2 separate regions of the Homo sapiens genome follow, and region 1 is linked to region 2. A link means that fine-mapping ties the variant in region 2 to the expression of a gene that starts in the linked region. Tissue or cell type: blood mononuclear cells. Region 2 holds a variant in brackets; the other region holds the start of a gene. All regions are shown on one strand. Distances are from middle to middle.

Region 1 (5,112 bases), 160 kb after region 2:
CTTTTGTAGGTGGAGCTGGGCATCCCCAGATTTCCCCACACTGTAATACCTTTTAATTGTTGGTATGTGCTAGAGCTTGGTGGAAAAAATAAAATGGATGAGTTCCATTTTGGGGGTCAGGATAGAGTTTTTAATGGGTGCATTAGTTCTCTTTTTACCCCAACTCTGCCAACAACCGAGAGGAACCCAGTGTTCTCACACTCCCCTCCCAGAGTTAAAGTTCAGGAACTCCCTGGGTGTCCAAATCTGGACCCTTGCTCACAGTGCCCTGCCTTGTGGTCTCACCATCTCAGTCACAAGTAGAGAAAAACAAAATCTTCTTTTTTTTTTTTTTCAGATGGAGGCTTGCTCTGTGGCCCAGGCTGGAGTACACTGGCATGATCTTGGCTTACTGCAACCTCTCCCTCTTGGTTCAACTGATTCTCCTGCCTCAGCCTCCCGAGTAGCTGGGATTACTGGTGTGTGCCACCATGCCTGGATAATTTTTGTATTTTTAGTAGAGATGGGGTTTCGCCATGTTGGCCAGGCTGGTCCGAACTCCTGACCTCAAGTGATCCACCTGCCTCGGCCTCCCAAAGCGCTGGGATTACAGACGTGAGGCTCTGTGCCCGGCTGAGAATAACAAAATCTTAACCCTCAATGTCTGCACTGGGGATGCAGAGTGAGTGACTTCCAAAAAGTCATAAATACGCTTTAAATCATTCATTTACTCATTCCGTAAACATGTACTGAATACCCCTTATGTGCCATAAGGAATACAGGAGAAAAAAGCCTTTGTTTTTGTTCTCAAGACAACAACAAACCAAAGTGCTGTAGGTGCTATGGTAGAAATATCCACATGTTGCTTGAAACACAAGGAACACACGTCTAACCTGGGGCCCAGCATTGGAAGCCCAGTCCAAATCTTGCTGGGTGAGGTTGTAGGAATTCTTCAGTCATTGACTGATTCAACAAAGATTTACTGAACACTTACAGTGTGCCAGGCTGTTATCTGGGCACTGAAGACTCAGTCTTATAAATGAAGTAGCCAGATTCACAGCTCTCACGGAGCTTGTGTTTGAGTTGTGGTATGGGGAGGGAGCTAAGGCAGGGGATGCAGAAGAAACAGACTGTATACCAGTCAGCCGATAAGCAAGCCATTGATTCCACGTGTTTTACTGAGTGTCTAATATGTATCATGCAGAGTGTTGCATGCTGGTATTATAAAGACGAATGAGACACAGCCCCTGTCCCTGAGGGTTTAGATAAAAAGGAAAGATCCTGTAGGAATGCCTAGTGCAAAGAATGGCGCTGTGTTTGGGGAAAATCAAGCTGTTCAGCTGAGCTGGGGCACAGGGTGTGGTGAGGGAGGGGGCTCCCTCTTTCAGTCATGAAATGCACCCTTTCCACAACTTGGGAAAGAATCCTTCCTGGAAACTTCATATGAACCCTCTCAAAGTACTTATTGATGTAGACATTTGGAACACGCTGTAGGTCCTGGGTGTCTGTAAAATAGCATCATCCAGCCGATCATCTCTCCCCACATTGCTGAACTGAGGACATGTGAACTGGTATCTCTCGGTGGTTCAGAACAGGGGCCAGCAACCTACGGCCCTAGGGCCACCACCTGTGTAGTAAAGAAAGTTTTTTTTTTGGAACACAGTCTTGGCCATTCATTTAAATATTATCTATGATCACTCTCATGCTACAATGTCAGAGGCATTATAAAGACCACGTAGCCCAAAAACCTGTCTGGGTCTGTAAGAAAAAGCTGCCAACCCCTGGTCTAGGCGCTCTGCTTACCTGAAATACAAACCAATAATGAGTTTCTGACACACCAAGTTCAATTCCCTCCCTCCCTTCCTTCCTTCCTTCTTCCTTTTCTTTCTTCCTTCCCTTCCTCCCTTCCTCTTCCCTTCCTCCCTTCCCCTTCTCACTCTCTCTCTCCTTCTCACTCTCTCTCTCTTTCTCTCTCTCTTCCTTCCTTGTTTTCTTACCTAACCCACATTCCCAGAAAATGATGTGAATAAAGACAAGTGTTGGACCTCAATGTGTCAAAGTTAAACTACAACTAGGATCTGCCTTCTGAGGTATGGCAAGAAACAAATTGGTTAATGTTTGCAAAATGCCAGGACATTCTCGAATAAAAGGCCCTATATAAGTTCGGAGTATTTATAATAATTATGATTATTATTATAATTTATGAGATGTCATAAATCTCTCCAAAATAGGATGAGATGAACACTTTTAACAAGAGAACAGGACTCTATATAAATCGCTGTGGGCTCACCACCTCTAAGGAGGAGCACTGACTGAAGACAGGTGAGTGTGAAGCAGAGGCATGGATCTTACACTCGGGCTTATTGAGGATGAAAATCCAGTGTATGGTGATCAGTTGGCAATGATTGTGTCTCTGCTGCATAAGAAATATTGGACTCAGGCGAAACTTAAGGACCTTGCAAAGAAAACCCAAGTTTGAAAAGATTTGTAGATGATAGAATAATTTTTCCTGTTCATTACAACACTCATCAAAATTTAGATATCTTTTAATGCAAGTATGTCATTACTTTTGGATTTGTGAGCATGTGCAAATCGAATAATGGGAGAAAAGAAATGTGTGTGCACTTAACTGTAGCTGTAATAGGGCCAAATGCGACGTCATATTTGTTAACTGAAAGCCAAAAGACTAAGGTGTTTGTATTTTGCCAGACGGTAAATCCCTTGCCTGCCCTCATGGGCAGTCTTGCCAATGCTACATTAACCCATAGACCATGAGTATTGGTTCTATAACAATCTTATTTTCTCTGCAAGCTGTGTAAGAACTAAGGCCAACATGTCTAACAGCCTCGGCTAACAGACTAAAAAGACAGATACGCCTCTAGAGTCCATAGACGGAACAGAGGGGCCAAGTCTCCCTGATTTGCTCTGTGCAGAAGGAAACGTTCACGGGGAAATCTCCAGCATAGGATGATCCTTCCTGGAGTTCTGAACTCTCAAAAACGCAAATGGGAAAAGCAGGCACAGAGGACGCACTGAGAGAAGGAACTCCCTTCCAGCTCACAGTGTCTCTATGCAGGGAAGATTTGCCTGCCCAGAGGGAAGAAAATGATCAAACTTTCAGAGGTCTTCTAGGCTGGTAATTATTGATTACAATCCAAATTCAGTGAATAGGTATTTTCACAGGCCATGTGAAGGTGCAGCTCTACGCAGCGTAACAGCTTAAAATGAGCCTTCCTGTTGCTGCCCTATATTTTTGCTCTAAAAAGTTGTATTTTTCTCAAAAAAAAAAAGATCTTAGTGGCAGAATAATTTTATATTATTTTATATTTGTGACTACATTGCTATTACTATTTTAATTTTAGGCCTGTTGGTGCATAGCAATCTGTGAGGCAATGGGCTGGAGTGTTGCTGTACGTGCATGTGTGTGTGTGTACGTGTGTGTGTGTACGTGTGTGTGTATATATGTAGGGAGGGAGAAGATTAGAATAGCAAGAAGAGGATGAGTACGACATGATGCTACTGGTAAGGCCTTTAAGAAATTTAAAAACTTAAACATTTTAAAAATGGAATAAAATAAATATTTAAAAATTTTAAAAAAACAAAAATTAAAAAAATTAAAAAGTTAAAATAATAAAAAATTAAAAATAATTTTAAAACAGGCCAGGTGTTGGTGGTTCCCAGCACTTTGGGAGGCTGAGGCAGGCAGATTGCTTGAGCCCTGGAGTTTGAGACCAGCCTGGCCAACATGGCGAAACCCCGTCTTTACTAAAAATACAAAAATTAGCTGGGCGTGGTGGCACAGGGCTGTAATCCCAGCTACTCAGGAGGCTGAGGCAGGAGAATCACCTGAGCTCAGGCAGGTCGAGGGTGCAGTGAGCCGAGATCACAGCACTTCACTCCAGCCTAGGTGACAGTCAGACTATGTTTTGAAAAAAAAAAAATTAAAACAATTTTAAAAATTAAAGAGTAATCTAATGAGACATTCTTACAGGCTTATAATGGTGAGATGATTCCACAATTTTGGGCCACTGCACTCCCACCTGGGAGACAGAGTGAGACCTTGTCTCGATTAAAAAAAAAAAAAAAAGAAAAAAAGAAAAAGAAAAAGAAAAAACAAAAAGAAAAGAAAAAGAAAAAAACCCAGGGGCTGGGCGCGGTGGCTCATGCCTATGATCCCAGCATTTTGGGAGGCTGAGGTGGGTGGATCACCTGAGGTCAGGAGTTCTCAACCAGCCTGGCCAACATGGTGAAACCCCATCTCTACTAAAAATACAAAAATTAGCTGGGCGTGGAGTGCCTGTAGTCTCAGCTACTCAGGAGGCTGAGGCAAGATAATCACTTGAATTCAAGAGGCGGAGGTTGCATTGAGCTGAGATCGCACCACTGCACTCCAGCCTGGGCGACAGAGTGAGACTTTGTCTCAAACAAAACAAAGCAAAACCCAACAAAACAAAAAGTAATTAAAATTAAAATTAAAAAATTAAAAAAAGAAAGGCCTGTTGGCACACAATGAGTAGGTAGACACAGAGACATGTTAGCAATAAACAAGGGTGACAACACAGCTTAGAGCAGGAGACCATGCCTAATGTGGATGCATACAGGAGTTCTCAGTTCTCTCAGGATTAGATGGGGACACCACAATGGGGCAGGGGCACCTTCATTGGGCACGTTGAGGTGTTAATACGTCACATTTCTGGGCTGGATGGAGGGCCCCAATGACCTGCAATGATACTGTTCAAGGTAAAGATTGAGAGCATTCATGGAAAAGTTTCTAAGGTGAGAAAACCATAAGACCAAAGATACCTGTTTCTACCTTTTCTAGAAAAATTGATGAACTGAAGAAGACATGGTCCATTATGCCTTACAAACTTACACAGTGCTTTGGGAATTCCAAAGTACTCAGTGGAGAGAGGGTGAGTAGAGGAAGATGTCCCCATCAAAGCCACCAGGAACATGAGGTAGCTCCTGAGGGATGCTCTGGTTGTCAGTTTCCAGTGTGCCTGGCAGGCCTGTTGCCCCAGCTTGTTGACACCCCCTTGCTGTTTGTTACTATTTTGCTCTCTGGGAAGGGAGAAGAGGGATGCTACCATAAACATTGTGCTTGACATCATGACCACTGTGCTGCCTTGGTCT
Region 2 (5,208 bases):
AAAAGTCACGTGAGGTTTAAAATGAAAAACGGGAAATTACCACACATGGGTAGTAGGACTTGTAAACTGTGAGCTTCACTGTAGGTCCATTTCATTGGTAAATCTCTAGATGTCATTGTCCATAGGTCCTTTAGGGTGGGGTGGTGTGTGGGTGTGTGTCAGTGTCAGATTTCCTAGAGAAGAATCTTTTACTCTCTTGTCTGTAGAAGAGTGTAAACTGCCAGCATTTGGGTCGCCAAGCAGGGAAGGAAAGGACCTGAATTCTCACAGTTTAGGAAGTAAAATTTCACTTAGTCTCTCTATTCATTTTCTCATTCCTACCTCCTCCCCACCAGCTGTGCCTATTGTCATTGAGTCCGGTATCTGGAAGGGGTAGTGTAGTCTTTATTCTTGGTGAAAGGAAAGAAATGTGCAAATGCTTCTTTGCCTGTTGCACAGTTTCAAGGATGAATTTATCCACACATCCACTTTTGAAGGTGCCTGTGTGTTTATTTCATGACTTTCTCTTTGTTTTACTGGTAACAAGCAGCTTCTTTCCAAGCTTCCATATGGCCAGCTTCAGTTTTATCTTTCGCTGAACTGTAAAGTCAGTTAGCACTTGCCTGTTAGTTACCAGGTTTTCTGCCTAAATTTTTCTCTATTTTCTTGGGGATTCTTCTTCTTATCATTTCATTGTATTTTTTGAAGTGAATGGCTGTAAATATTTGTGTCAGTCTGTTACATATTCCCCTGTCCCCTTCTCAGCTGGCTGATACCTGCTATCTTTCAGGTCTCCATGCCTCGCTTTCCCTTGATAGTTTGACTGTCTTCATACTGATTTAGGTGACTTCTTGTGCTCTTCTGGAGCTATGGCTCCCTGAATGAATCTGCATCTTAGAATTCTTCAGACCTTTCCATAGTTGTCTGTTTACTGGACAAGAGCTGGAGCTACATTTTCATCACTATATCCTTAGTGCCTCTACAGTGACTGGACACAATCATTCAGGACATATTTGTTGAATTGGAGTTAAGTATTAATTAACTGGTACATTTATCTGGTTTAGTAAGAGAAGAGTGTGTTGCTTGTAATTAAGTGTTTTATTAGGCATCATTGATGATGAATTTAGTCCAAGAATGTCATCTCAAAATAAATGCTGGTGCAGCATTGGGAAGTTCACATGCAGAAAGCTTGTAACTTTTCTGTGTAGGAAGGTATCCTGACAAATTCAAGCTCTGTGGACTTCCTGAGATGCTCTATGAAAAATTAAAACGTTAATGAAAACAGGCATTGCTTCTTACATTAGCCAGTCATGGAAGTCTCCAGTTCAAGAGAGCACCCTTATTCACATAGGAGGAAGAAAAAGAGATTCTTTGTGTGAGGGAAGAAAAATGAATATTGCAGTAATCACTTTTTGATTGAGAATCTGGAATTCTAAATCTGCTTTTATCACTAATTTTTGTGTGACTGTAAAACATTTTCTGTTTAGATCTGTTATTATCTCTATCCTTTTCTGCAGGATAGAGATGATAATATTTTTGCTCTTGTTATTAAGATTTCATTATAACTGTACAAATAAAGTTCCATTATGCTGAATTTCACCGAGATATCCAAACTGTGGTGCTGTAAAATAACTTTATTTTTAGAAAAATTAAGTTTTAGTGAATACTTTACCACTTTATAGATAAAACAGCATTAACAATTAGCAAGTAAAAATAACTCTTTAGATGTAATAAGACAAGTAGGAGGTGCTATTTTGTTTTTGATTTAAAAAAATAAGCTTTATTTCACAGTCTTGAGGAGTACTGGTCAGCTATTTTGTAAAATGCCTATATATATATTTTGGTATCATCTTTCTTCTCCATTAGCATGTAAGCACCAAAGGTGCAGACTTTGTCAGTTTTGCTCATTGCTATTGTGAAAGAAAGTTTTCAGGCCAGGCACGGTGGCTCACGCCTGCAATCCCAGCACTTTGGGAGGCCGAGGCGGGCAGATCACAAGGTCAAGAGATCGAGACCATCCTGGCCAACATGGTGAAACCCTGTCTCTACTAAAAATACAAAAATTAGCTGGGCGTGGTGACGTGCGCCTGTAGTCCCAGCTACTCGGGAGGCTGAGGCAGGAGAATCACTTGAACCCGGGAGGCGGAGGTTGAAGTGAGCCGAGATTGCGCCACTGCACTCCAGCCTGGCGATAGAGTGAAAAAAAGAAAATAGAAAGTTCTCTGAAAAGGAATTTGGAGGAAAGAGACTTCATTCCAGTGAACAGTTTGCAAACCTGGGAGATGCAGTTTTCACTGTAAAAGAAGCTGTGGTGTCCCTTCTTGTTGATTCTTAACCATGCTCCCCACAAACTGTAATAATCCAAGTGTTCTTGATTCCTTTAAAGCTCCCAGTTCAGCCATTTGAGCCTCTCATGATTTCGTAGTCCCTATACCTTCCAACCCAGTTAACATTGAACTTGAACTTGGAGGGAAGACCCTCTAATAGTTCACCTGTCAACCTATTCTTCCCTTCACCTGGCCCCAAAAATGTTTTTTGCTTGTTAAGATTGACTTCTTTGCCTTCTATCCTTTTTGTTTGTTTTGTTTGTTTCTTTGTTTTGAGATAGGGTCTCCCTCTGTCACCCAGGCTGTAGTGCAGTGGCACTATCACGGCTCACTGCAGCTTCAACATCCCAGGTTCAAGCCATCCTCTCTCCTCAGGCTCCCAAGTAGCTAGGACCTCAAGTGTGTACCACCATGTCCAGCTGATTTTTTAATTTTTTGTAGAGACAAGGTCTTGCTGTGTTTCCCAGGCTGATCTGAAACTCCTAGGCTCAAGCGATTCTTCTGCCTCAGCCTCCCAAAGTGTGGAGATTACATGTATGGGCCACCATGGCTGGCCTATCCATTTTTTAAATTAATTTTTTTTTAGATAATTGTAGATTCACATGCAGTTGTAAGACATAGCACATAGTGATACTGT[G/A]AACCCTTTACCCAGTTTCCCCAAATGGTAATATGTAATAAACTTGCAAACAGTGTCACAACTGGGAAATTGATACTGATACAGTTAATATACAGAACATTTCCACACTACAAAGATCTTTCTTTTTTTTTTTTTGAGACAGAGTCTCACTCTGTCACCCAGGCTGGAGTGCAGTGGCGCGATCTCGGCTCACTGCAAGCTCTGCCTCCCGGGTTCACACCATTCTCCTGCCTCAGCCTCCCGAGTAGCTGGGACTACAGGTGGCCACCACCACGCCTGGCTAATTTTTTGTATTTTTAGTAGAGACGGGGTTTCACCGTGTTAGCCAGTATGGTCTTGATCTCCTGACCTCGTGATCTGCCCACCTTGGCCTCCCAAAGTGCTGGGATTACAGGTGTGAGCCACCGCGCCCGGCCTCCACACTACAAAGATCTTTCATGTTACTCTTTCATAGTCACACCCACTTCTGTTCTCCGCCTTTCCTTAACTCCTGGCAACCACTAATCTGGTCTCCATTTTTATAATTTTGTCATTTCAAGAATGTTATATAAATAAAACATACAGCATATAACCTTTTGGGGCTGGCTTTTTTCACTGAGCATAAATTATCTGTCAGGTCATCAAAATTGTTGCCTTTTTATTGTTCAGTTATATTTCATAGTGTGGATGTACCAGTTTGTTAACCTTTCATCTGTTAGGGACATCACAGTTATTTCTTGGTAGGCTATGAACATTTGTGTATGAGTTTTTGTATGAGTATAAGAAGAGTACAGTTGTTGGTTCCCGTAATAGTTACATCTTTAGTTTTTGTAAGAAACTGCCAAACTGTTACCCAAAGTGGTTGTAGTATTTTATACTCCCACTAGCCTTGTATGAGGGATCAACTTTCTTTGCATCCTTGCCAGCATTCAGTGGTTTTCATTTTATCCATTTTAATAGATGGTGTTGTATCTCTTTGTGATTTTAATTTGCATTTGCCTCGTGGCTAATAATGTTGAACATTCTTTCATGTGTTTATTTCTTATCTTTACATCATCATTGGTGAAACATTTGTTCATATTTTTTTCCTCATTTTCTAATTGGATTTAGTATTTTTTACTGTTTAGTTTTGATATTTCATTATATATTCTAGAGACTACTGCTTTGTCATAAAAGTGGTTTGCAGGTATTTTCTCCCAGTCTGTAGTTTTTCATCCTCTTGAAATGGTCTTTTGCAGAACGTTTTTAATTTTGATGAGATCTGATATGTTGATCTTTCCTTTTATGGATTGTGCTTGCAAGTCTAAGAACTTGTCACTTTGGTGCTAGATCCCAAATGTTTTCTTCTATATTTTTAGATTTTATAGTTTTATGTTTTACATTGAAGTTAATGTTTCATTTTGAGGTTTTACAATTTTTTTTTTTTATTTGTGGATTTCCAGTTGTTGCAACACAGTCAGTTAGGCATATTTTGGTGGATCTGTTTCTGGGTTCTCTGTTCTCTTCCATTGATGTTTGTGTCTGTTCCTTCACCAGTACCACACTATATCAAATACTGTACCTATGTGGTAAGCCTTGATATCAGGTAGAGTGATTGCTTTCACTTGTTTCTTCTTTGTCAAGATAATTCTGGCTATTCTAGGACCTACGCCTCTCTCTCTCTTTTTTTTTTTTTTCTTGAGACAGGGTCTCACTTTGTCACCCAGGCTGGAGTACAGTGGTATGATCTCAGCTTACCGCACCCTCTGCCTCCCTGGCTCAAGCGATTCTTGTACCTCAGCTACCCGAGTAGCTGGGATTACAGGCACATGCCATGATGCCCAGCTCATTTTTTGTGTGTTTTTAGTAGAGATGGGGTTTCGCCATGTTGGCCAGGCTGGTCTCGAACTCCTGACCTCAGGTGATTTGCCTGCCTCGGCCTCCCAGAGTGCTGGGATTACAGGTGTGAGCCAGTGCACCTGACCTATATAAATGTTAAAATAAGTCATTTATCCACAAAATACCTTGCTGGGATTTTGATAGGAATTACATTAAACCTGTAGATCAGTTCGGGGAGAATTGACATCTTTACTATGTTGAGTTTTCTAGTTTACAGACCTTATATCCCATTTTATTTTTCTTTAGTTGATTGAACAGATATATTTTGGATGCTGCTTGTGGGTTAGGAACTATGTTTGAAAAGAGATAGCAGTTGATGGAGAATGTGGATTTTGTGATGAAAAAGTAATCTCTAAGCCTTAGACATCAACAGAGGAGGGTGAGTGCCAACACAGAAGAGGAAACAAT

The links. PIP is the estimated chance that this variant, and not a neighbour inherited with it, causes the effect.
Region 1: LYG1 starts here. The variant in region 2 is fine-mapped to the expression of LYG1 in blood mononuclear cells (TOPMed, PIP above 0.99). The same link has a PIP of 0.9 or more in ileum and whole blood.

The regions. Positions count from the first base shown.
Region 1 is chr2:99,298,239-99,303,350 of GRCh38, reverse strand. LYG1 (lysozyme g1) reads left to right here and starts at 2,154. Exons shown (of 7, transcript NM_174898.3): 1 at 2,154-2,301; 2 at 4,802-4,892. All of the region lies in intron 1 of LOC107985923 (a long non-coding RNA gene), which reads right to left.
Region 2 is chr2:99,457,078-99,462,285 of GRCh38, reverse strand. The region is part of intron 3 of REV1 (REV1 DNA directed polymerase); the gene reads left to right. Among named protein-coding and RNA genes, the nearest start is that of REV1, 30 kb to the left of the region's middle. The variant G/A (reference allele first, on the strand shown) is at 2,944.